Linked DNA regions of Homo sapiens. The protein of the gene in region 1 interacts with the protein of each later gene in a pairwise test. Each region holds a gene or a part of one and is shown in the gene's direction. Other genes may lie near its edges. The genes, in order: RUBCN, VEZF1, BRD1 and FAM161A.

Region 1 (7,037 bases):
CAACAGTGATGACATGTTAGAGGCAAAACTGCAGACACTTCTAACATTCGGGGTAATGGCAACAGTGGTGAAATATTAGAAGCAAAGTTCCAATTTCACATATATTTCATGAGAACCTCTATGATCCCAGTTATGTGTTAGGCACTAAATGTTTTTTATATATGTATATATATACGTGTGTGTATATATATACACACACATATATGTGTGTGCGTATATATGTATATATATGTGTATATATGTGTGTGTGTATATATATATGTATATATATATAAGCCAGACAGAGTTACTGCCTAAGGGAGCTTACCATTTGAGAAAGGTTAAGATGTGGAGAGTGAGGGAGAGATTTGAGTCCTTTGTTTTGTGTTTGTGCATATGAGGGGTTGTGTCCCTGTGTGCCTTAGGATGCTCGTCTTCTCATTCACTGTTTTACACCAAAGCTGAGTTTGTCTTTCTGCCTGAGTTTGTAACACTTTGACCTTTTCAGTGCTATGCATAATGTTACTAATTCAGCCTGGTTTTGATTTGGATAGAGGCAAATTATAACCTGTGTTTAGAGCTTCACCTGCTCCTTTCTCCTGCATAGAGTGTGGCACCTGGCTGTTACCCTGAGAGCTTAGCTGGGAGCACCTTGTAATAGATTCCAGGTTCCCTTACCCACCCCGTTTCCATTGCGCTCCCCTTATCTCTGGTTTCCATGTAGATGCTGACATCAGAAGGAACACAGCCTCAAGCAGCAAATCCTTCGTTTCCTCCCAGTCCTTGTGAGTACTTTTTTTTACCAAAAAAAAGAAAAGAAAACCTTAGGATATGTAGAGAAACAAACCCAGTTCTTGGTGTATGGCTGGGCAAAGCCATCCAGATGTAAGAGGAGGCGAGGTTAAAGGGAGGGGCTTGCTGATGGTGCCGAGCCCACGGGAAGAAAGCAGAAGCTCTTTGGTCCCAGTGGGATGGGCTCTCGTGGAGGCAAAGCTGGAAGTGAGTTATTCCTTCTCTGCTGACTCTCATCATAACCAGAGGCCCCAGAAGGTCTCAAAAGAGAGCAGTGATGATGGTTTTTGGTTATGAAATCAAATTGAACAGATTCCACATCATAGACCCAACCAGGGGACACAGTAGCTCATTTGGGAGGAAAAATCGCTTTGTAGTCCACAAAGCAATTTTACTCACTTTGTTTTGTAAGCAGGCATTATAATCTCCATTTTGCTGTTAGAGGAGCTGAAGTTCAGAGAAAGGAAGTGACAGAGTCCTTCATTAGCAGTGCCGTGCAGTGGCAGGAAGTGGGGCTTGAACCGAAGTCTTAGGACCGTGAGACTAGTGGACTTTGACTGTCCCATGTGTGAGGGTGATGAGCAGGCCAGGGTGCTGCGGGTGTTCTTCCAGCCCAGAAGTTGCTGCGTGGGGGATGAGATCATGAAGGGAAGCCTCGCATCGCCCATCCTTTCCCTGTGTTCAGCCGTCCTTGATTCTCCCCTTTCCAGCTCCCACTGCTTCCTGCACTCCACGTCTGCTGAGGCGGTGGCCATGGGGCTCCTGAAGCAGTTTGAGGGGATGCAGCTTCCAGCCGCCTCGGAGCTGGAGTGGCTTGTCCCGGAGCATGATGCCCCTCAGAAGGTAGGTCCTTAGCTCTTCTTCCTACCCAGGGGCCATCGTGAGCCTCTGTGACCTTGTTTTCCTTCGTCACATGTCCCTAGTCTGGAATGAGCCTGGGTGTTCCCCCCTTACTCGTGGAAGCCATTCATTACAATGTGTCAAGTGATAAATGAACGAGTGAATGCTTGCTCACCTTGTCAGAGCAGAGATGACGGCGCGTTCGCGGTCCTTATTCACGTGACTGCTCGCCAGACTCAGTCATGTTTGGTTTGTGACCACCTCGGAGACACTACGCAAAAGTAAATCGCTTGGATTCTTTGCTCTGCAGTTGTCTTTAAGGCATGAAACACACTGGCACAGCAAGGGTCCTGGGATGGGTGCAGGGACAGCATGAGCCGTGGGGCCACTGCCCTGGTAGGCTGTTTCTGTTTGCTTCTTGGAACCCACGGCCCTCACTTGTAGTACCTTGGCGCCTCCTGGTTGTTTCTGAGGTTCCCTGAAGCCCTTATCCTGTGGTGTTCCTGAAATGTCTTTCACTCATTATGCTCTGTCATGGCCAAAAGGGTCCCGCATTTCTGTTTCTCAAGCCCGTCCGTGTGAACTTACCCCAACTGTGTTTTTCTCCTGCCCATCCCTGACTCACTGCCCATCTCACCAGATGACGGGCAGCACACTGACACGAGCTTACCCCAACTGTGCTTTCCTCCTGCAGCTCCTGCCCATTCCTGACTCACTGCCCATCTCACCGGATGACGGGCAGCACGCTGACATCTACAAGCTGCGGATTCGTGTTCGTGGCAACTTGGAGTGGGCCCCGCCCCGGCCTCAGATAATTTTTAATGTTCATCCAGCCCCAACGTGAGTGGCCAGTGTCTGTGCCCTTTGGAGCACAGATCCGTCCTCTTTGGATTGTCAGGGTTTTCGTCTCACCCACTTGTCCCTGCCTCCAGCTGTCCTTCCCACACCGTTCTCTTCATTTAAAGGCAGAGGGGGGGCGTCGTCCATTTGGTCCTTCGTTTCTTACTCTTAATTCCTGGAGCTAATTGGAAACGAGGCGGGTTTTGTTTTGCTGGCATTCCCAACCTGTAGCTTTCCTCCCAGTAGTTGTGTGGGCTTGCTGGTTTTTCTTCTCTTTCTAAGATAGATGGATGCTCTTCTCTCCTGTCATTCTCTCTCCTTTACCACATCTCATTCCTTATATTTGTACAGAATGTGTGGTTCCTTACTGGGCAGAGTGACTGCCTAGACCTAAATCTTATATGGAGTTAGCTCTCCCAATAGGTTCATTTTTGTCCAACTAAAATGTAGGTGAATTCCCCTCTCTTCCCATACTTAACTGGAGCTGTATGTATGTGTGCTCACTCCTTCACACCTCCAAGGTCTCACGCAGCTGCTCTGTGCCAATGCCCTGTCCTTACCCTTCCTCAGGAGGAAAATTGCCGTGGCCAAGCAGAATTACCGCTGTGCAGGATGTGGCATCCGGACTGACCCTGGTGAGTGCCTTCCCTTCCCACCATGCTGCCTCCAGAGGCTCTGTACCCTCCCCGACACGTAGGGAGAGGTGGCGTGTCAAAGGCGGTAGCAGGAGGTGGCGTGGCAGAAGTAGGGAAGGAGAAAGAAAGGTTCGTAGTAGGCAAGAGTGCTGGCAATCGGAGGGAAATGATTTCTGGGAGCACATGGCCAGGATTGTATCCTGTGGAAAGTTGGGTAGTTCCAGCTAGCTGGTAAGGCGGGATCTTACTATCTCCAGCTGGTTTTATTTCCTCAGGGCCTCCAAGGTAGGACATTATCACCCCAGGATCCACTATGTGGATTTCTGCAAGCTTTGGGGAACTCAGACAGAGGTTGCTGGAGGCCATTGGCTGTCCCTCTCTGCCCTTTCAAGGGAAAAGCAGAGCTGCCTTCCCAGCTTGTAGATGGGAAAGTTACATCTGGCTTTCTGGCTTTCCGGTTTTTCCAGATTACATCAAGCGACTGCGGTACTGTGAGTACCTGGGCAAGTACTTCTGCCAGTGCTGCCACGAGAATGCCCAGATGGCCATCCCCAGCCGGGTTCTGCGCAAGTGGGACTTCAGCAAGTACTACGTCAGCAACTTCTCCAAGGACCTGCTCATTAAGATCTGGAATGATCCTCTCTTCAACGTGCAGGACATAAACAGTGCCCTCTATAGGAAGGTCAAGCTGCTCAATCAAGTCCGGGTAAGACCTTGGAAAAGGCCACCTTAGAGTCTTGCCCTTCTCCTCCCCTCATCCCCTCCCCTCGTCCCTCCCCCGTCCCCTCCCCCCATCCCCTCCTCTTGTCCCCTCCCCCCATCCCCTCCCCTCGTCTCCTCTCCTTGTCCCCTCCCCTGGTTATATAGGGCTTCCCACAATTACCACACTTCTTGTTATCGCAGTGTCAAAGCTATAACCGTCTCTCCGTTCATGCCCTCACTATGTACTTTCTTAATCTCTTCCCATTTCCCAGGTTATCTGTCTAGTTGGAGCCTCAAACGTGGCAATGGCAGCTAGGAAGCTGTAGATAGCACTTGAGGGCAAAAGCAGAATTTCTTCCTTCACTAAAAACATTAGTGAATGAATGAGGAATCGGGTATCGAGTAAGAAATTGGAATTTCGGAGCACTCCTCTGCCCAGACTGCTTATGTGACTCGGGCAGACAGACCTGGCGGAGGGGCCTTCCCTGACTAGAGGGCACTCTGAAGCCAGTTGTCAGAGTGAGTTAGAGCAAGTTAGAGCATAGGACAGTCTGAAGCCAGTTGTCAGTTAGAGCGTAAGACAGTCTGAAGCCAGTTGTCAGTTAGAGCGTAGGACAGTCTGAAGCCACTTGTCGAGTTAGAGCGTAGGACAGTCTGGAGCCAGTTGTCAGTTAGAGCGTAGGACAGTCTGAAGCCACTTGTCGAGTTAGAGCGTAGGACAGTCTGAAGCCAGTTGTCAGTTAGAGCACAGGACAGTCTGGAGCCAGTTGTCAGTTAGAGCGTAGGACAGTCTGGAGCCAGTTGTCAGAGCGTAGGACAGTCTGGAGCCAGTTGTCAGAGCGTAGGACAGTCTGAAGCCAGTTGTCAGAGCACAGGACAGTCTGAAGCCAGTTGTCAGTTAGAGCACAGGACAGTCTGGAGCCAGTTGTCAGTTAGAGCGTAGGACAGTCTGGAGCCAGTTGTCAGAGCGTAGGACAGTCTGGAGCCAGTTGTCAGAGCGTAGGACAGTCTGAAGCCAGTTGTCAGAGCACAGGACAGTCTGAAGCCAGTTGTCAGTTAGAGCGTAGGACAGTCTGAAGCCAGTTGTCAGAGCGTAGGACAGTCTGAAGCCAGTTGTCAGAGCACAGGACAATCTGAAGCCAGTTGTCAGTTAGAGCGTAGGACAGTCTGGAGCCAGTTGTCAGAGCGTAGGACAGTCTGGAGCCAGTTGTCAGAGCGTAGGACAGTCTGAAGCCAGTTGTCAGAGCACAGGACAGTCTGGAGCCAGTTGTCAGAGCGTAGGACAGTCTGGAGCCAGTTGTCAGAGCGTAGGACAGTCTGGAGCCAGTTGTCAGTTAGAGCGTAGGACAGTCTGAAGCCAGTTGTCAGAGCGTAGGACAGTCTGGAGCCAGTTGTCAGAGCGTAGGACAGTCTGGAGCCAGTTGTCAGTTAGAGCATAGGACAGTCTGGAGCCAGTTGTCAGAGCGTAGGACAGTCTGAAGCCAGTTGTCAGTTAGAGCGTAGGACAGTCTGAAGCCAGTTGTCAGAGCGTAGGACAGTCTGGAGCCAGTGGTCAGAGCATAGGACAGTCTGGAGCCAGTTGTCAGAGCGTAGGACAGTCTGGAGCCAGTTGTCAGTTAGAGCGTAGGACAGTCTGGAGCCAGTTGTCAGAGCGTAGGACAGTCTGGAGCCAGTTGTCAGAGCGTAGGACAGTCTGAAGCCAGTTGTCAGTTAGAGCGTAGGACAGTCTGAAGCCAGTTGACAAGTTAGAGCGTAGGACAGTCTAAAGCCAGTTGTCAGTCAGAGCGTAGGACAGGCTGAAGCCAGTTGTCAGTCAGAGCGTAGGACAGTCTGAAGCCAGTTGTCAGAGCATAGGACAGTCTGGAGCCAGTTGTCAGAGCGTAGGACAGTCTGAAGCCACTTGTCGAGTTAGAGCGTAGGACAGTCTGAAGCCAGTTGTCAGAGCGTAGGACAGTCTGAAGCCACTTGTCGAGTTAGAGCATAGGACAGTCTGAAGCCAGTTGTCAGAGCATAGGACAGTCTGAAGCCAGTTGTCAGTTAGAGCACAGGACAGTCTGAAGCCAGTTGTCAGAGCGTAGGACAGTCTGGAGCCAGTTGTCAGAGCGTAGGACAGTCTGAAGCCAGTTGACGAGTTAGAGCGTAGGACAGTCTGAAGCCAGTTGTCAGTTAGAGCATACGACAGTCTGGAGCCAGTTGTCAGAGCGTAGGACAGTCTGAAGCCAGTTGTTAGAGCGTAGGACAGTCTGGAGCCAGTTGTCAGTTAGAGCGTAGGACAGTCTGAAGCCAGTTGTCAGTTAGAGCGTACGACAGTCTGGAGCCAGTTGTCAGAGCGTAGGACAGTCTGAAGCCAGTTGTTAGAGCGTAGGACAGTCTGGAGCCAGTTGTCAGTTAGAGCGTAGGACAGTCTGAAGCCAGTTGTCAGTTAGAGCATACGACAGTCTGGAGCCAGTTGTCAGAGCGTAGGACAATCTGAAGCCAGTTGTCAGTTAGAGCGTAGGACAGTCTGGAGCCAGTTGTCAGAGCGTAGGACAGTCTGGAGCCAGTTGTCAGAGTGTAGGACAGTCTGAAGCCAGTTGTCAGTCAGAGCGTAGGACAGTCTGAAGCCAGTTGTTAGAGCGTAGGACAGTCTGGAGCCAGTTGTCAGTTAGAGCGTAGGACAGTCTGAAGCCAGTTGTCAGTTAGAGCATAGGACAGTCTGAAGCCAGTTGACGAGTTAGAGCGTAGGACAGTCTGAAGCCAGTTGTCAGAGTGTAGGACAGTCTGAAGCCAGTTGTTAGAGCATAGGACAGTCTGAAGCCAGTTGTCGAGTTAGAGCATAGGACAGTCTGAAGCCAGTTGTCAGAGCATAGGACAGTCTGGAGCCAGTTGTCAGTCAGAGTGTGGGACAGTCTGAAGCCAGGTATCGAGTTAGAGCATACAACAGTCTGAAGCCAGTTGTCGAGTTAGAGCGTGGGACAGTCTGAAGCCAGCTGTCAGAGTGTGGGACAGTCTGAAGCCAGGTGTCGAGTTAGAGCGTAGGACAGTCTGAAGCCAGTTGTCAGTCAGAGTGTGGGACAGTCAGAAGCCAGGTGTCGAGTTAGAGCATAGGACAGTCTGGAACCAGTTGTCGAGTTAGAGCGTGGGACAGTCTGAAGCCAGCTGTCAGTCAGAGTGTGGGACAGTCTGAAGCCAGGTGTCGAGTTAGAGCGTAGGACAGTCTGAAGCCAGTTGTCAGTCAGAGTGTGGGACAGTCTGAAGCCAGGTGTCGAG
Region 2 (7,037 bases), on another chromosome or scaffold:
TGTGGCTCTTCCCTTCCTCAGAGTGATCCCTTCTGTTTTTTTTTTTTCTTTTTTAGACAGAGTCTCTCGCTCTGTTGCTCAGGCTTGAGTGCAGTGGCGTGATCTCGGCTCACTGCAGCCTCCGCCTCCTGGGTTCAAGTGATTCTTGTGCCTCAGCCTCCCGGGTAGCCAGGACGACAGGTGTGTGCCACCACACCCGACTAATTTTTGTATTTTTACTAGAGACAGGGTTTTGCCATGTTGGCCAGGCTAGTCTTGAACTCCTGATCTCAAGTGATCCACCCGCCTCAGACTCCTAAAGTTCTGGGATTACAGGCATGAGTCACCACACCTGGCCAGAGTGATCTCTAAACCTCCTATACTTGGATAAAAATAAAAGGAATAGCATTCTTTTTTTTTTTTTTTCTTTTTTTGAGATGGAGTTTTGCTCTTGTTGCCCAGGCTGGAGTGCAATGGCATGATCTTGTCTCACCACAACCTCCGCCTCCCAGGTTCAAGCGATTCTCCTGCCTCAGCCTCCTGAGTAGCTGGGATTACAGGCATGTGCCACCGCGCCCAGCTAATTTTGTATTTTTAGTAGAGACAGGGTTTCTCCATGTTGGTCAGGCTGGTCTCGAATTCCCGACCTCAGGTGATCTGCCCGCCTCACCCTCCCAAAGTACTGGGATTATAGGCGTGAGCTACTGGGCCCTGGCGACATTCTTTTTCATACATTTACTGGCATTGGAAGAAAAGAATGCAGCAGTCCGTATAGGCTTTTCATCATTCCTCAGGTGCTGCTTGTTCCTAGCTTCCATCTGAAGATTTGTCATTATTTTAATAAAATGTTTTGGCCAGGTGTGATGGCTCACACCTATAATTCCAGCACTTCAGGAGGCCAAGGTGGGAGGATCACTTGAGGCCAGGAGTTTGAGACCAGCCTGGGCAAGATGGCAAGACCCCATCTCTACAAAAACAACAACAACAACAAAAAATTAGCCGGACGTGACAGTGCGTGTCTGTAGTCCCCGCTACTCAGGAAGCTAAGGTGGGAGGGTCACTTGAACCCAGGAGTTTGAGGCTGCAGTGAGCTACAATTGCATCACTGCACTCCAGCCTGGACAACAGATTGAGACCCCCATCTCAAAAAAAACAAAACAAATGAACTTTTGTGTTAGAATGGGGAGAGGGGACGGGCAATGGGGAGGAAAAAGTGTAGTGCTGTGATAATTGTATAGTGGGTTGAAAGTATATTATGAAGGGTATTTTACTTAGAGAAGGAGTAAAAATGTTTAAGTCATAGTAAAAGGACACTCTTAGATTAAAAAGAAAACACGGAGGAGGAGGTAAGGGGGTCAGCAGATAAGAGAGTAAAAATTCTTTGGTGAAAGCAGGTGGAGAATATCCTCAGCAATACTCCCAGCACCTTAAAGTGAATTGGTTTTCTCTCTCAATCTCTCTCGGTGTACTCCTCTATTTGGTATTGTATTTCAATTTGCTTGCACAATAAGACTTGGTTGTTTAGCTCATCTTCTGACTTCCATGAAACAAAATGTTATTGTATTCCCATTTGTAGCGTGAATCTCTCTCAAAAAGACCACTGATCTTAGAAACCTCTGTATTCATGTTAGTAAATGTCACATTTTAGAGGAGAGGAGACTCCTGACCTGAAAATCTAAGCTTGAATCTATAACGTCCTTTAAATATTAGGCCTAAATAAGGTAACATAAGTTTTCAAACCTGATCGACAATCATATTGTCTGGGAAGCTTTTTAAAAATACACATTTCCCAAGTTCCATCTAAATTTCACTATTGATTCTCCTGGAGTCCTTTGTTTTTGTTTTGTTGGGTTTTTTTTGTTTGTTTGTTTGTTTGTTTTGAAGTCCTCTAGATAGTTGATTTTGATAATCAGCCAGATTTGGGAATCCCTGATAGGGAGAATGGTGTGTGCCAAAGTTACATTGTATTGATCAAGTAAGGGCTGCTTGACTCAAGGGTCCCCCTGCGGTGATAAGACCTTTGTGGATCATATACAGATCTCTATCTTTAGTTCAAGTATATTTCTCCATTTTGATAGCCAAGTCACAGCTAGCCTACCCATCATTTTACTGCTGTTTTCTGGTGCTGAATTTTGTTGAGGGGTGGGTTGGGGATGTCACCTTGAGGGGAAGTATTTTTTAAGAAGTGTCTAGACCTGGCTCACACCTTAATCCCAGCACTTTGGGAGGCTGAGGTGGACGGATCGCTTGAGCCTAGGAGGAGACCAGCCTGGGCAACGTGGCGAAACCCAGTCTCTACAAAAAACACAAAAATTAGCTGGGCGTGATGGCATGCACCTGTAGTCCCAGCTACTTGGTAGACTAAAGTGGGAGGATTGCTTGAGCCTTGAGGGTTTGAGGCTGCAGTAAGCTTTGATCATGCTACTGCACTCCAGCCTGAGCAACAGAAGGAGACCCTGTCTCAGAAAAAAAAGTGTCCAGGTTTTGTTGGATAAGAAGGACCAGGGTCCTCTAACTCACTGCAGGGTCTCCTTGCCTAGCTAGTTCTCTTTGGTATGCTTGGTGGTATGTGTAATATGTAGAGTTAAAGATACTAGGCATAAAATAGGTGATTGTGTCAACATCAGAAACAAGAAGAAATGGGAGTGAGGAGAACATGAACTTATTGAGGAGTATTTTTTTCTTTCCTAATGTAGTTAAGAAACATAACCAGAAAGAATAAGATTATTTAACTGAAACATATTTCTAAAACTGAAACAAACATGATACTAAAATAGCTTGTTTATCATTCCCCAATTATGCATTTTTAAAACCTTCACAGAATGTGGCTTCATGTCTCAGGCTTTAACATACTTATTGAGTATGCACACCTCTCTCTGCTAGTTACAGTGTGCCTTACGAGAAGATTTTTCTGATTATCTGTTATTGTGTAACCATTGGCCCAGCTCTGTGTAAACAAGCTCTTTAGCCTGGCCTGCTGGAGGTTGGCTCTTCCCAAGAAAGTTTTTAGAACTCAGAGGAACTGCATGAAGTAGTAGTGAGAACACTTAGCCCTGCATTGCAGAAGTTAACTGATCCTCTCAGCATCACTGTGAGGTAGGTAAGTAAATCTGAACTTGAAACCTAAAGTGCAAGGCTAAACAAGTTGCTTAAGTCCTTGCAGGAGGTATAGCATCAGAAGGTGATTCATACACTGGGATCCCTGGCCCCCAGGCTTGTGCTCAGAAAGATCCTCTGTTCTGTTGACCGCTTGATAGAAAACTGGAATTTGATTTATTAAATGTTTGACATTTTTAATGAAAAGAAATTGATTCAGAAACTTTGTGAATTTTGCTCACTGTTTTGAGAATCTAAAGACCCTTTTTCTTCTTATTTTAGAAGCTGCTAACCTGTGCCAAACCTCCACGGCTGCTACGACACCTGTGACTCTCACTACTCCATTCAGTATAACATCCTCTGTGTCGTCTGGGACTATGTCAAACCCAGTCACAGTGGCAGCTGCAATGAGCATGAGAAGTCCAGTAAATGTTTCAAGTGCAGTTAACATAACCAGCCCAATGAACATAGGGCATCCTGTAACTATAACCAGTCCATTATCCATGACCTCTCCTTTAACACTCACTACCCCAGTCAACCTCCCCACCCCCGTCACTGCCCCAGTGAATATAGCACACCCTGTCACCATCACATCTCCAATGAATCTACCCACACCTATGACATTAGCCGCCCCTCTCAATATAGCAATGAGACCTGTAGAGAGCATGCCTTTCTTGCCCCAAGCTTTGCCTACATCACCGCCTTGGTAAACAGTATTATAAAATCAAAATATGGGTAAAAGTAAATATTTACCAGCAACTTAACTTTTAGTTGATTAAAGCAAAAAGTAAACCATGAAATTGGGAGATTTTATTACATTAGTTAATAAGAGTGTGGTAGCATTTTTCTCCAATTTGGCTGGGATTATTCAAAGTAGGGTGTGTATGTAACTTATCACTGGACCACTTTAGTTTAATCAGAAATTCCTTTTAGCTGACAACATTGCTTAAACAGGATAGTAGTTGGCAAGATGAAATGCCAGAATTAAAACCAATCATAAGTAGAACCCACTTCAAAATAAAAAAACAGCATTACTATTTCTAATCCCAAGGAATCACTTTATTGTAAACACTAGCAGAACTCTTCTCCCTATACAAGGTGGATGGCTGATTTTAACCTGAAATTTTAAATCCACAGATTGAGAGCTAGTGTAGAATTGTCTGTGTTTATTGTTTTTATGAGTAAATACATGCATTGTCATAATAAAATGCATTTCAGAGAATATGCATTTTACCTTTGGGAATATGTTAATTTCAGGCAGCATTCCCTATGGGAAAGGTGATACCAGCTCTGATATGCAAAGCATATGATAATTTATCATTCTAACTTCAACGTATAATAGGGATTGTGACCTGATATTTGGAGATGTAAATATTGCTCAGCATATTAATCCCGATGGAATATAGCATTGTAGTTGACTTTTTAAAAAAAAAAAAAATTTAAAAAAAATCTACAAATTGTGTTTTGCTAAGAAAAGCCTCAACTGACAGAGGAGAAGTCAAGTGTGTGGACAGGCAAGCTCCTAATAAACAGAGTCCAGTGGGATTCCTATTTAGGAGCCAAGGAGTACTTTGGAACAGTACAAATATATTGCTTTAAATTGGAAGACGCTGGAGGCACTGGGATGTGATATGCCCCTCTCTCTCCCAATCAGAGCCTGTTGATATTACAACAGGGACAGATGTGTTAGTTGCTCACTAGAGTTTATGTCTTATATTAAATTGTATACAGTTTTTATTCTAACCACTAACTAGGTAGTGTATGCCCCTTCAGAACATGCAGAGTGTATCTTTTTTTAAATTTCTCCTTCCGTTTCTTAAGTATTGCGCAGATTTGTTCAACTTTGTAAATATGGACATCACTTTTTTTTTCTTTGAGAAAACACTTGTATCAGCTTTGTGGTGTTTTCAGGGAGACAGCTGTCTGCATTCCCTGTAGAAACCCAGCAATGATTATGCACGTTGAGACATGTGCTTTTTATTTCTTAGCAAGATATTTTATCTCTGTACATAAAGTAGAAACCAAAAGCTAGGGAAACAGATACTCTTTACACCATCATGCCACGCATTGTTTTTAAAGCATTGCGTTAAAAAAAAAATTAACTAAACCAAGATGCTGTGATTTTTTAAGTTGCAATATGTTTTTGGTTTTTTTCATTTTTTAATCATTGCAGTTAAGAGAAATGGAAATTAGTTGTGTTAATCTTGCAGAATGTTTGCAGGACTGACTATCAAACTGGATGATTTCCATTTATACCCTACTGTGTCAGTTCAAGCATCAAAATACCTTGCATCTGAGACAGACTTCCTACATCAGGGACAGGTATCTGTGTGTCATTATACAAAACAGTTCTAGGGGGTTGAACTACATAGTAAAAAAATAAAATAAATAGTACTTAGTGTAAAATAATTTTATAAATGATCTTTTGTACTTTAGGACATTAAATTGTACAACTTTTGTATATATAAAAGCTTAGGAACTTTCTGTTTAGCAGGAAGGCAACACATTCCTACACTTTTAATGTATATGTTTGTTATAATGTCCATGTAAACATGCCCTATGTTTGTGCCTTTTAATTAGTTTGTCTCAATAAACAAAATGTAGAGAAAAATATGTAGCTATGACTTTGTTACAACTGTTCTTATCCACAGTACAAAAATGGTTTGTTTTTAATATGTAGAGCATTATGTGTGGACTACTGGAAGGACTCGTGTAGGGAAAGCCCAAGAATGACCTTGCTGAGGCCTGGATTGGGAGGCACAGTGGCCACATTTGGAGGAAGTTCACATTTCCTGGCATGCAGACCCAAAACTGGGTTCTGGCTCTGCCTGCTGGGATCTGTTATCTCTGGTGGGCTGGCAGTCATAATTCACAATTCAGACAGCCCAGGCTTCCTCCACAGTGGTCCAAGGAGCAGTCCTCAGTGGGGGCAGGTGTGGGCCCTACCCCTAAGCTAGAATGTGGTTGTCAGAACCCTGAAAGTATTAGTTCTAAAAAAAAAAAGATATATACTAGAAGTAATTGTTTTATCAATTCATTGTATAATAAACAGGAGTGAGACTTCATTGTATGACTTCAGTTAAAATACTATTTTGTATGCATTCTTTATTCACTTAAGAAGCTTGTCTGCAATAATAAAGCCACGTCATGTCTTCTTTTGGGAGGGAGAGAGTCGATGGCAGGAGGGGGTTTTGGGTGGGCCACTGAAAAGGGGTACCGAATAGGTTGTGTGATGAAATTCTGTGTCTTGGAACTGGAATTGAGTTTCGATGTTGATGAACTGATTCAACCAGGTGTTGAAGGCACGACAGCCACTGCTCTACGAAAAGGCAGAGTACGTTTTTCCCTTCTGGTTGTAACCTGGTTGAGAGCTTCCCCTTTATCAGATTGGCAGCTAAACAGTTGTATTAGATAATCCTTAAATCTGACATCCAGCCTGTTACGCTCTAGGGCTCGCTGCTTGGCCTGCGTTTGCTTTTTATTGTGTATCCGTTCCCCTCCTACGGTGTGCTCCTGAATGAAGGTTTCTATGTAAGCAGATGATGATTTTACCTGTCAATACCAGCACTGTATTACTAACATGCAAAATACTGCAGATTTATTTTGAAAATTAAAGTTAACTGGTCACAAATGTTATGATGGATTGTTTAATACCTCAGAAGCTTCATCAGTTTGCTCTGATAATAGAGGAATTTTTCAAGTACTTTCTTTTCAGGTGCGCACATCTCAGTATTGGGTTGGAGAGAGAGGGAGGGACCAGTATCAGGCTGGTTGGAGGGTGGAAGGGCACCAGACTGACTGCCCTTGGTAGGTGCACCCTCCCAAGCAGCTCAGGTAAGGCCCAGGAAGCTAGGATGGAGGCAGTGGCCACAGGTTTAGGTCCCTGTCCTACCCAAAAGAGAAGATGGGTTTAAAACATTTCTTCTCATGCTCTAGGACCCAATTTCCTTAGTTGAAAGGGG
Region 3 (3,128 bases), on another chromosome or scaffold:
TCACACAGCTGGAAGGGGCAGGGGTGGTTCGGCGAGGGGGGCGTGGGGGTGGTCTGAGGAGGCTCACACAGCTGGGGTGGGGAGGCGGGGGGGGGTGCCAGTGACAGGTGGGGTTGTTTATGGGTGTGAGCCTCACAATGACCTCAGCGGGTCCTTCTCGTGCAGATCATCGACCCCAAGATGCCCCGTGTGCCTGGCCACCACAACGGCGTCACCATCCCGGCCCCACCCCTGGACGTGCTGAAGATTGGGGAGCACATGCAGACCAAGTCTGATGAGAAGCTGTTCCTCGTTCTCTTTTTTGATAATAAGAGAAGTTGGTGAGTTGAGAGGCCTTAGACTCCGGGGACCGGCTGGGGTGGTTGGGGGCCGTGGGCTCGGTGACCTGAGTGTCCCTGTGGTGAGCAGCGTCTTTGTCTGCTGGGCCCTGGCACAGCTAAAGTCGGAGGTGAGTGCTCCGCTGTTTGCCTGGTGGAGAAGGGCACTGCCCAGCCCCCTCGCCGGGACTGTGGGACGGGCACTGAGCACCGGGTCTGTCTCTGCCCGATGGCTTCCTCTCCCTCTCGCCTGAGCCCCATTGGTCTGGACTGTCTCTTCCCTACTCCTTACCCATGTGTCCGCTCCAGTGTTGGGGGTCCCTCTGCTGTGCTCCCGGACCCCTGTACTGCAGGACATGGCCCCTGCCCGGGCCTGGCCTCTGGCCCTGTTCTTAGAGCCTTCTGTCCCAGCATCATCCAGCTCTGCTCAGACATCCACCCCATCACAGGAGGCTCCCCCTGTGCCCTGAGCTGCTTTTCCCCAGAGCGTCTGGGACCCTCATGTGCCAGGGTTTAGACCCCAAGATCCCTCTGTGCAGGACACGCTGGCAGCACATGCCTCTGGGAGGAGCTGTGGCCCCGGCTGTGCCCTGCGCACGTGGCCCGGGCAGGTGCTTCCTGGTTCCCCGTGGAGCTGGCTGCACTTGGGACCTGGCGCAGGGGCTCGGGGCCACCTGCCTATGGTGTGCCTGGAGCAGGACTGGCAGCACAGGCATCCCTACCGTCTTTCTCTTCCTTGCCTCGACCTCTGCCTCTTTGGCCACGTGGCCACTGCTTCTTGTCAGGCCTTGAGCGAGGCCCACACCTTGTCCATCCGAGGGCCCCTTTGATGGGGTCTCCCCAACCACCGGCCTCTGCTCCAGGGCCCACCCTGACTCTGGGCTTGGTGTGTGCATGTCTTGTCACTAAGCAGGCACTGGGAAACGTTTTGGAGGTGGAGGAGGAGGTGATGGTTTTTATGCCTTACTTAGCTCCCCGTATCCCCAAGTCGGGGAGGGGAAGGGAGGGGTGCACTCCTGGCCTCGGGCCTGTCCCTGCACGGGGCCCAGCTGTCTTGGTGGTGCTGAGCAGGGCCCCTTTCTATCGGAGGGCAGTGAATTTGTTAGATGATTACATGGAGCCTGCTGAAATACCATGTGCAAGCAATGATTTTCCGCTTGTTTTTCCTTTTAAAAAGGCAGTGGCTTCCTAAGTCCAAAATGGTTCCCCTTGGTATTGACGAAACTATAGACAAGTTAAAGATGATGGAAGGGAGGAATTCCAGCATCCGGAAGGCCGTGCGGATCGCTTTTGACCGCGCCATGAACCACCTGAGCCGCGTCCACGGGGAGCCGACCAGCGACCTCAGTGACATTGACTGACGGCCCGGCCGCCAGCGCGGGTCTTGTCCATAGTGTTGATAAGCTGTACATGTTTGTATATTGTTCAAAACTTAACTTATTCTGATTTTTAGTTATAGCTCTTTAATTCTTTTTCCCCGGGGAGGGGGGAGGTTTTATTTCCAAGTTTTCTAGGAACCCATCTCCGTCTGGGCGCTGTGAGTGGGGTGGGCACGTCCGGGCAGCCCAGTGCGTCTGTCGCACGTCCCCAGGCCGTGCTGCTGGCGTCACTTTCTTTGATATGTAGCTTTTTCTTAAAGACTTTTGAATGTTTAATAATTTTGTAAATCATGCTCTTTACACAGAGTACCACTTATTTAATAAGACGGGATGTAAATTTACAATGACAAATGTGTATTTTAAGAAAGAAAATGACATTATTTTGAATGGTACTTTGTGGAAAGAGGGGAGAATAAAGTTATGCTGTGTACATCACTTGCAGATCACCAAAAACACTCCGCTGCCCGTGACCGCCGGTGGGTGTGTCCCCGCTCCCGTCGTCCCGCCCACCTCAAACCCCGCAGGTGTGCCTCCCAGCGGATTATTTATTGTAGAAAGTGTATTCATTTGCTTTATAATGAAAAATACATTTGCAAAGGTATATTGATATGCATTTTTATACAGGCACATAAAAATTCAACTTGGCTTGGGAGCAGAATGCATTGCATTGTATAAATGACTCTGGCCTGTGTGTACTTTGATTTTATAACTTGTAATCTTTTGTTTACAATGAGGGGCTTTCTGTAACTTGTTTTAATTTAGAACACTTTGGTAGCAATAGAAACTTTGGATACATTTTTGTATGGTACCTGTGATGTATATAGAATTAGTACTTTATTTTTATTTTTAAGAGGTAAAGCATTATGTTGGGGAAAGTAGGGTGGGTTTCCAAATTTGCATTTTTTATATTAAAAATAAAGTCAAGATTTGGACGGTGTGGCCATTTTATTCCTACAGCCCTAGACGGCTAGGTGAGCCCCAAGGACGGGTGGGGTGCTGGCTGCAGGGGGCGGGGACACGCCTTTATCTTGAAAACTGTCATGGGATGGCATTATTTGTTATTTCACCTGATCATATTTTTATTTTAAAACTTCAGTTACATAAAAGTTTTAAATGCTTTTTTTAAGCCTACACCGTTTGTAACATCTCCATAGAAACTTGGAAATCAAGTCTTCCTTAGATAGTTGCTGTCCTGCATCTGGCAGGTGCTTCCTATCTGTCGTGGCTCTCCTTCCCACAGCCAGCCCCGCCCGGCAGGCCCCTCCCCACCACGAGCAGCTGGTGGCCCCCAGGATCACTCACCGCCCACGCAGAAAGGAAGCCCACGCAGAAAGGAAGCGGGTGCAGGAGCCAGGTGGGGACAGGCCGTGGAGCACTCAGGGCTACCACCGAGAAGCCCAGCTAATGGCGGGTGCAGTTTGCACCCCTTCTC
Region 4 (7,037 bases), on another chromosome or scaffold:
ACGCCATTCTCCTGCTGCAGCCTCCCGAGTAGCTGGGAATATAGGTGCCCGCCAGCACACCTGGCTAATTTTTTGTATTTTTAGTAGAGATGGGGTTTTGCCATGTTAGCCAGGATTGTCTCAATCTCCTGACCTCGTGATCCACCTGCCTCGGCCTCCCAAAGTGCTGGGATTATAGGCGTGAGCCACCGTGCCCGGCCTCTGAAGACTGATTTTTTAAAAGTTGTTTTCTTTAAGTTACCCCAAGTAGTACAACATTGTCCTCTTGTATGCTGATTTTAGCGTATTAAAAAAAATACCATATCTTCTGAGAAGCCTCCAGTGGGAAACAAAAATACCACATCTATAACTACTATTTATAATTGACTCTTCTGAATTTTTATTTTGAGAGAAGCTAAACAGATTATTTTCTAGAGTCTTATCAGATTGGATCTATAATTTTCTGTAGCAAATTTTTTCATTTTGCATCTGTTCCAGACAGTAGGCTAAATTTAAAACTGTGGTTGGCAGCCTTTTATGCATAGTATCATAAATAATTTCAACTGTTTCTCAACTGAGAACATAATAAAAATTTTATATTTATGGAGAAAATGGGGTTTTATCTCTTTAGTTGCTTCAATTAAAAGAACTGAAAGGGTAGGGCACGGTGGCTCATGCCCATAATCCCAGCACTTTGAGAGGCCGAGGCGAGTAGATCACCTGAGGTCAAGAATTCAAGACCAGTCTGGCCAACATGGTGAAACCCCGTCTCTACTAAAATACAAAAATTAGCTGGGTGTGGTGGTGTGCGCCTGTAATCCCAGCTACTTGGGAGTCTGAGGCAGGAGAAGGCAGAGGTTGCAGTGAGCTGAGATGGTGCCACTGCACTCCAGCCTGAGTGACAGAGTGAGACTCCGTCTCGTAAAAACAAACAAACAAACAAAAAAACTGAAAGGTATGTAAAGGGAGTGAGGGAGAAAGGCCAGTCAGACCCTTCTAAACATGATCTGTATGTTGAATAATTACAGCATTTTTTCTTCTTTGCTTTGTTGTCATCCTAAAGTCCCGGTCACCCATGGGAGCTACTGCTTTTGTGCCCACAGAAGCAGCTACCCTGAAAGTCCCTCCTACCCCCTCCCATGTCCTCTTACTCCCTCCCAAAGTCTTGCCCCACTGTGAGGAGGGCTTCTCCCTGGCTCCTTGATAAGCCACTGAGAACTTTGTCCCTGCCCCCATTTCCTCTATTTCCCTGCCTTCTCTCCACTGGCAGTCCTTGGAGCCACACTGCAGGAGCGCAGCTGGAGGGAGAGCATTGGGCTGTGGTTGCCTGGTTTACAGCAGGTAGAACCGTGTTCCTCTTCATCTCAGTTAAAACTTACAACTCAGGAGGCTCCTTATAGAAATACTTTGTAAAGGGTTGTTGGGTTCTATCCTATTATACCTTTTGTTGGTTGATCTGGGAATTGAACCATCCTTTATCAAATGGATTAAATAACATTTATTTTCTGACAGTTTGGTCTTGCTCCCTCTCGTTCTTAAAATATCACTGGGGAAAATGTACATAGCCCACAAATAACCTATAACTCATTCTATATGCATAGCCCATAATTAATGTATAACCTAACTAGGTGGACTCTTTAAGAAGCAGCATTTTGGATCAGTGTCAGCTTAATTTGTCTTTCAGCTCCAGTCACTATATATCAAGTGTTTTCTCCCCACCAGGCTGATTTGAACACCAGCTTTTCTGGGGTGGATGAACATGCACCGATAAGCTATGAGGACTTTGTGAACTTTCCTGATATTCACCACTCTAATGAGGAGTATTTCAAGAAAGTAGAAGAGTTGAAGGCTGCCCACATAGAAACTATGGCAAAATTAGAGAAAATGTACCAGGATAAATTACATTTAAAGGAAGTTCAGCCAGTGGTCATCAGAGAAGACTCTCTTAGTGACTCTTCCAGGTAAGCTTGTAACTCAATGTTATTTGTGGAGTATAAAATAAAATGTATCCTTAAAAGGACAGAACAAAGTTACTTCATAATATTTTCTCTTAAATAGCCCTTTGTACTCCCAACGATATACAGAGGTAGGATTTTATTCAAAATGTTTAATGGCTTATCAGCTTACTGGATGACCGTTTGCTTGAGGGTCATTTGGTGGCCATTTGGTCTTTTCTTTCTGACCCACCCATAGAACTGAGGGCATGTATCAAAATACTTAGTCTGTGCCATTTTAACTGGTAAATATAAAAGTTTAATTTTAAAAGCTCTTTATAATATGTGGATTAACATGAGCTCATTAAAGATCTAGTACAAAGAGTTCAGGACTAGGAGACATGAATCTGATTTATGTTTTCAAAATAGTCTGCAATTTCAAGACCCATTTCTGCTGTGAACTCACCTGCTCTGAGACTTACACATCTAGTCAGTCAGCGATGCTTGCATGTCTCCTTTGTGCCAGACTATGCCTGGGCGCTGAGGAGTCAAAAACAAGATGCCCTCAAGGAGCTTAGAGACTAGCTGAGAACCAAAAATTGCATTACAGCATGATGTAACAGAGTGTTACAGAGGAAGAAGCAGTTGGTCATGCCAAGCTTTCAGAGGGATGCAGGCCAGAATTTTCCACTAAAGTGTCACATCTGAGTTCAGTCTTGGAGGAGGAATAAGTATTGGCCTTCTAGGCAGCAGAAACCATGTATGCAAAGGCAAGATGGCATGAGAAATCATATCGTGTGTGAGGAACTTCACAGGACTGGATATGAATGCAGAATGGAGACTGGGGTAGCCAGTGGTGAGGGGTAAGACTGAAAAGATAGGCGCCAGTCTCGAAGGGCTTGTAATCTAGGCTTGACTTCGTAGCAGTGAGGAATTATCAAAAAGTTTCAAGCAGGGGAATGACATGATCAGATCTATGCTTCAGGACAGTGACTCTGGAAAGTGGGGAGAATTTAATAGAGGTTAGACACAAGGACCCTCTGCCATCTCAGGTTCCTTCCCTGTAAAATGAAGGAGTCAAAGTGGATAATTTATGGGCATTGCCCAGCTCTATTCCAAATAAAAGTGATGATTCTTACAAGCCCTGTCCAGCTCCTCGCTTCTGATTATACCCTGATCTTAGAAAATATGTAACTCTTGGCTGGGCACAGTGGCTCATGCCTGTAATCTCAGCACTTTGGGAGGCGGAGGCAGGCAGATCACGAGGTCAGGAGATTGAGACCATCCTGGGTAACTTGGTAAAACCCTGTCTCTACTAAAAATGCAGAAAATTAGCTGAGCATGGTGGCACAAGCCTGTAGTCCCAGCTACTCGGGAGGCTGAGACAGGAGAATTGCTTGAACCTGGGAGGTGGAGGTTGCAGTGAGCCGATATCACACCACTGCACTCCAACCTGGGCAACAGAGTGAGACTCTGTCTCAGAAAAAAAAAGAAAATATGTAACTCTTAATTTTTATATTTGGTCACATACAACTGAAAGTATAACATAGTTATTCTTCTCATTTAGATCTGTATCAGAAAAGAACTCCTATCACCCTGTCTCATTAATGACATCATTTTCAGAGCCTGATTTAGGCCAGTCTTCCTCCTTGTATGTGTCCTCCTCTGAAGAGGAGTTACCCAACCTAGAAAAAGAGTATCCTAGGAAAAACAGAATGATGACCTATGCTAAGGAGCTCATCAACAATATGTGGACAGACTTTTGTGTTGAGGATTATATTCGCTGTAAAGATACTGGCTTCCATGCAGCTGAAAAAAGAAGGAAGAAACGAAAAGAATGGGTGCCCACAATTACAGTACCGGAGCCTTTTCAAATGATGATAAGAGAACAGAAGAAAAAAGAAGAGTCCATGAAATCTAAATCAGATATCGAAATGGTACATAAAGCGCTCAAAAAACAAGAAGAGGATCCAGAGTATAAGAAGAAATTCCGAGCCAATCCAGTTCCTGCATCTGTCTTTCTCCCCCTTTACCATGATTTAGTCAAGCAAAAAGAAGAACGGAGAAGGTCTCTGAAGGAGAAAAGCAAAGAAGCTCTTTTGGCCTCACAAAAGCCATTTAAATTTATAGCAAGGGAGGAACAGAAGCGAGCAGCCCGGGAAAAGCAGCTGAGAGACTTTCTTAAGTATAAAAAGAAAACAAATCGATTTAAAGCCAGACCCATTCCTCGATCTACTTATGGTTCAACTACCAATGACAAGTTAAAAGAAGAAGAGCTCTATCGAAACCTTAGGACACAGCTGAGAGCCCAGGAGCATTTACAGAACTCATCTCCTCTGCCTTGTAGGTCAGCTTGTGGATGCAGGAACCCCAGGTGTCCTGAACAGGCTGTAAAGTTGAAGTGTAAACACAAGGTTAGGTGCCCAACTCCTGATTTTGAGGACCTTCCTGAGAGATACCAGAAACACCTCTCAGAACACAAGTCTCCAAAACTCTTAACAGTGTGTAAACCATTTGATCTTCATGCATCTCCACATGCATCTATTAAAAGAGAAAAAATTTTGGCAGACATCGAAGCAGATGAAGAAAATTTAAAAGAAACACGTTGGCCTTATTTGTCTCCAAGGCGTAAGTCACCAGTAAGATGTGCAGGTGTAAACCCTGTGCCTTGTAACTGCAACCCTCCCGTGCCCACGGTATCTTCCAGAGGACGAGAACAAGCCGTAAGGTAAGTAAGTAGGACGCAGTACTGACTGACTCATGGTTGCCAGATGAGTGTATGCAGCTCTGTGGAGTTTATGTTGGTAAATTTGAAAATACTTAGAAATTATTATTGTATCTATAAGATATTTTACTATATAATATATGATATTTTGTCAGAGGGTATTCTAAGAAATGAATATATTTTTCATTTATAAATTTTGGGGGATTAGAAAATAATAGTCTTAAGATTTCTAGTTTTACCTGGCTGGGCACAGTGGCTTACACCTGTAATCCCAGTGCTTTGGGAGGTCGAGGCAGGTGGATCACAAGGTCAGGAGTTCAAGACCACCCTGGCCGAGATAATGAAACCCCCATCTCTACTAAAAATACAAAAAATTAGCTGGGCGTGGTGGCGGGTGCCTGTAATCCCAGCTACTCAGGAGGCTGAGGCAGGAGAATCGCTTGAATCCAGGAGGCAGAGGTTGCAGTGAGCCGAGATCACGCCATGGCACTCCAGCCTGGGCGACAGAGCGAGACTCCATCTCAAAAAAAATAAATAAATAAATAAATAAATAAATAAATAAATAAATATTTCTAGTTTTACAGGTCAGATCCTTTTCAAAAGGTTACCTTTTTTCAAATTTTGAATTATCAAAATTCAAATTATCCCATGTTAAATCTTTGCTAAACAACATTCTGATTGGCTTAAAGTGGATTAAGCCTTAGTTTGTTACCCTCAGGAGATCACTTGAGGAAAAGAAAATGTTGGAAGAAGAGAGAAATCGGATCCTAACTAAACAGAAGCAAAGAATGAAAGAATTGCAGAAACTCCTGACAACCCGGGCTAAGGCTTATGACTCACATCAAAGTTTAGCTCAAATATCTAAATCCAGAGTAAAATGTCTCAGGTATCATGAAAAAATCTTGAATCTCCAGACCACTGGTTTTCAAACTCTTTTTTTTTTAATCAGTAGATAGTAAAATATGAGCAGATTGAAAATAGCATTAGTGTTTTAGCTTATGGATTTAAATTGTCATCAGTTACTTGTGTTCAGTGCACACACACTCACCTCATGGTGAGAACCAACATATAAACTCACCTTTATGGTGAGAACCATGAAGCTATGTTGATGAATACAGACATTTTCTATTGTGGCCTTAGTTAATGGTTATAATCTTATACCAATATCTGATCTTGTTCTTTATATTATTTTTGATTGCAGTAAACAGATATATCAAAGAGCTTTGTTCTAAGGTTTGGATGAAATCTGATAGCACAAATTAACACGTTAAACATCGGTTATGTGATGTGTTCATTAGCACATATGTTAATGTTTAGTAGTATGTGTTGCATTTTGTTAGTTTCAATATAAAAATATTCACGGAATTCTTAGAACCCCTTCACTAGAATTTTGCAGTACAAAGTTTGAAAACCAGTGTTCCAGATGTTGCACATAAAAATGTTGATGTTTAAGTAGGAAACTATCTCCCTCAAAGCCAGGTAAGTAATGTGATTTATTACTTTTTAATCTGATTTCTAAATATGCATATGTGCTTTTAATTACAATGAGTATTCTTTTATAATTTAGCTTTAATCCATTGATAAAGGGAGCTTAATTTGATGAACGTGAGCATAATGTTTCTTAGAAATAGATTACTTACCCTTAGGAAGTAAACTATTAATAGCTTTTTATTTTTTATTTATTTATTTTTTTGAGACAGAGTCTCGCTCTGTCACCTAGGCTGGATCCCGAGTTCAAGCGATTCTCCTGCCTCAGCTTACAGAGTAGCTGGGATTACAGGTGCTCACCACCACGCCTAGCTAATTTTTGTATTTTTGGTAGAGATGAGGTTTTGCCATGTTGGCCAAGCTGGTCTCAAACTCCTGACCTCAGGTGATCTGCCTACCTTGGCCTCCCAAAGTGCTGGGATTACAGGCGTGAGCCACCGTGCCTGGACAATAGCTTTTTCATAACACCAACTTGTGTATAATTAAGCCTAATTATCATTTAAAAGTATAATTATTTTCCCCAATCCATTAATCTTATTTATCTTGGTAGCAATTATATCTTACATAGAGAAAATAGTGTAGTTTAATTTATTATAGGATCTTGCTCAAACAGTGAGAACACTTACGGTAAATTTATATATTTTGGTTCCTGTTTCTCTTTATGTTGTATTCCCATGCTCTTTACTTCTCCTTTGACTTGCTCCCATTGAATTAACTTTGCCACTAACCTGTAGGAGATCTTATTTAGGGGAAAAAAATAACAGCAAAGGCTGGATGCCATGGCTCACATCTGTAATCCCAACACCTCAGGAGTACAAGGCAGGAAGATTGCTTGAGCCCAGGAGTTTGAGACCAGCCTGGTAAACATAATGAGACCCCCATCTCTACAAAAAATTTAAAAAAATTAGCCA

The links.
Region 2: the proteins of RUBCN (region 1) and VEZF1 interact in binary tests that used the Homo sapiens proteins (3 or more experiments, as listed by UniProt).
Region 3: the proteins of RUBCN (region 1) and BRD1 interact in binary tests that used the Homo sapiens proteins (3 or more experiments, as listed by UniProt).
Region 4: the proteins of RUBCN (region 1) and FAM161A interact in binary tests that used the Homo sapiens proteins (3 or more experiments, as listed by UniProt).

The regions. Positions count from the first base shown.
Region 1 is NC_000003.12:197,677,884-197,684,920, reverse strand, and holds part of RUBCN (run domain Beclin-1-interacting and cysteine-rich domain-containing protein), read left to right. Parts: intron 1-703; coding exon 704-764; intron 765-1,481; coding exon 1,482-1,614; intron 1,615-2,305; coding exon 2,306-2,451; intron 2,452-3,021; coding exon 3,022-3,086; intron 3,087-3,553; coding exon 3,554-3,792; intron 3,793-7,037.
Region 2 is NC_000017.11:57,971,221-57,978,257, reverse strand, and holds the end of VEZF1 (vascular endothelial zinc finger 1), read left to right. Parts: intron 1-3,357; coding exon 3,358-3,785; 3' UTR 3,786-6,706; downstream 6,707-7,037. UniProt on the Homo sapiens protein: Possible transcription factor. Specifically binds to the CT/GC-rich region of the interleukin-3 promoter and mediates tax transactivation of IL-3.
Region 3 is NC_000022.11:49,772,783-49,775,910, reverse strand, and holds the end of BRD1 (bromodomain-containing protein 1), read left to right. Parts: intron 1-165; coding exon 166-320; intron 321-1,494; coding exon 1,495-1,678; 3' UTR 1,679-2,628; downstream 2,629-3,128. UniProt on the Homo sapiens protein: Scaffold subunit of various histone acetyltransferase (HAT) complexes, such as the MOZ/MORF and HBO1 complexes, that acts as a regulator of hematopoiesis.
Region 4 is NC_000002.12:61,837,025-61,844,061, reverse strand, and holds part of FAM161A (protein FAM161A), read left to right. Parts: intron 1-1,701; coding exon 1,702-1,940; intron 1,941-3,480; coding exon 3,481-4,641; intron 4,642-5,356; coding exon 5,357-5,524; exon of another isoform or gene 5,525-6,117; intron 6,118-7,037. UniProt on the Homo sapiens protein: Involved in ciliogenesis.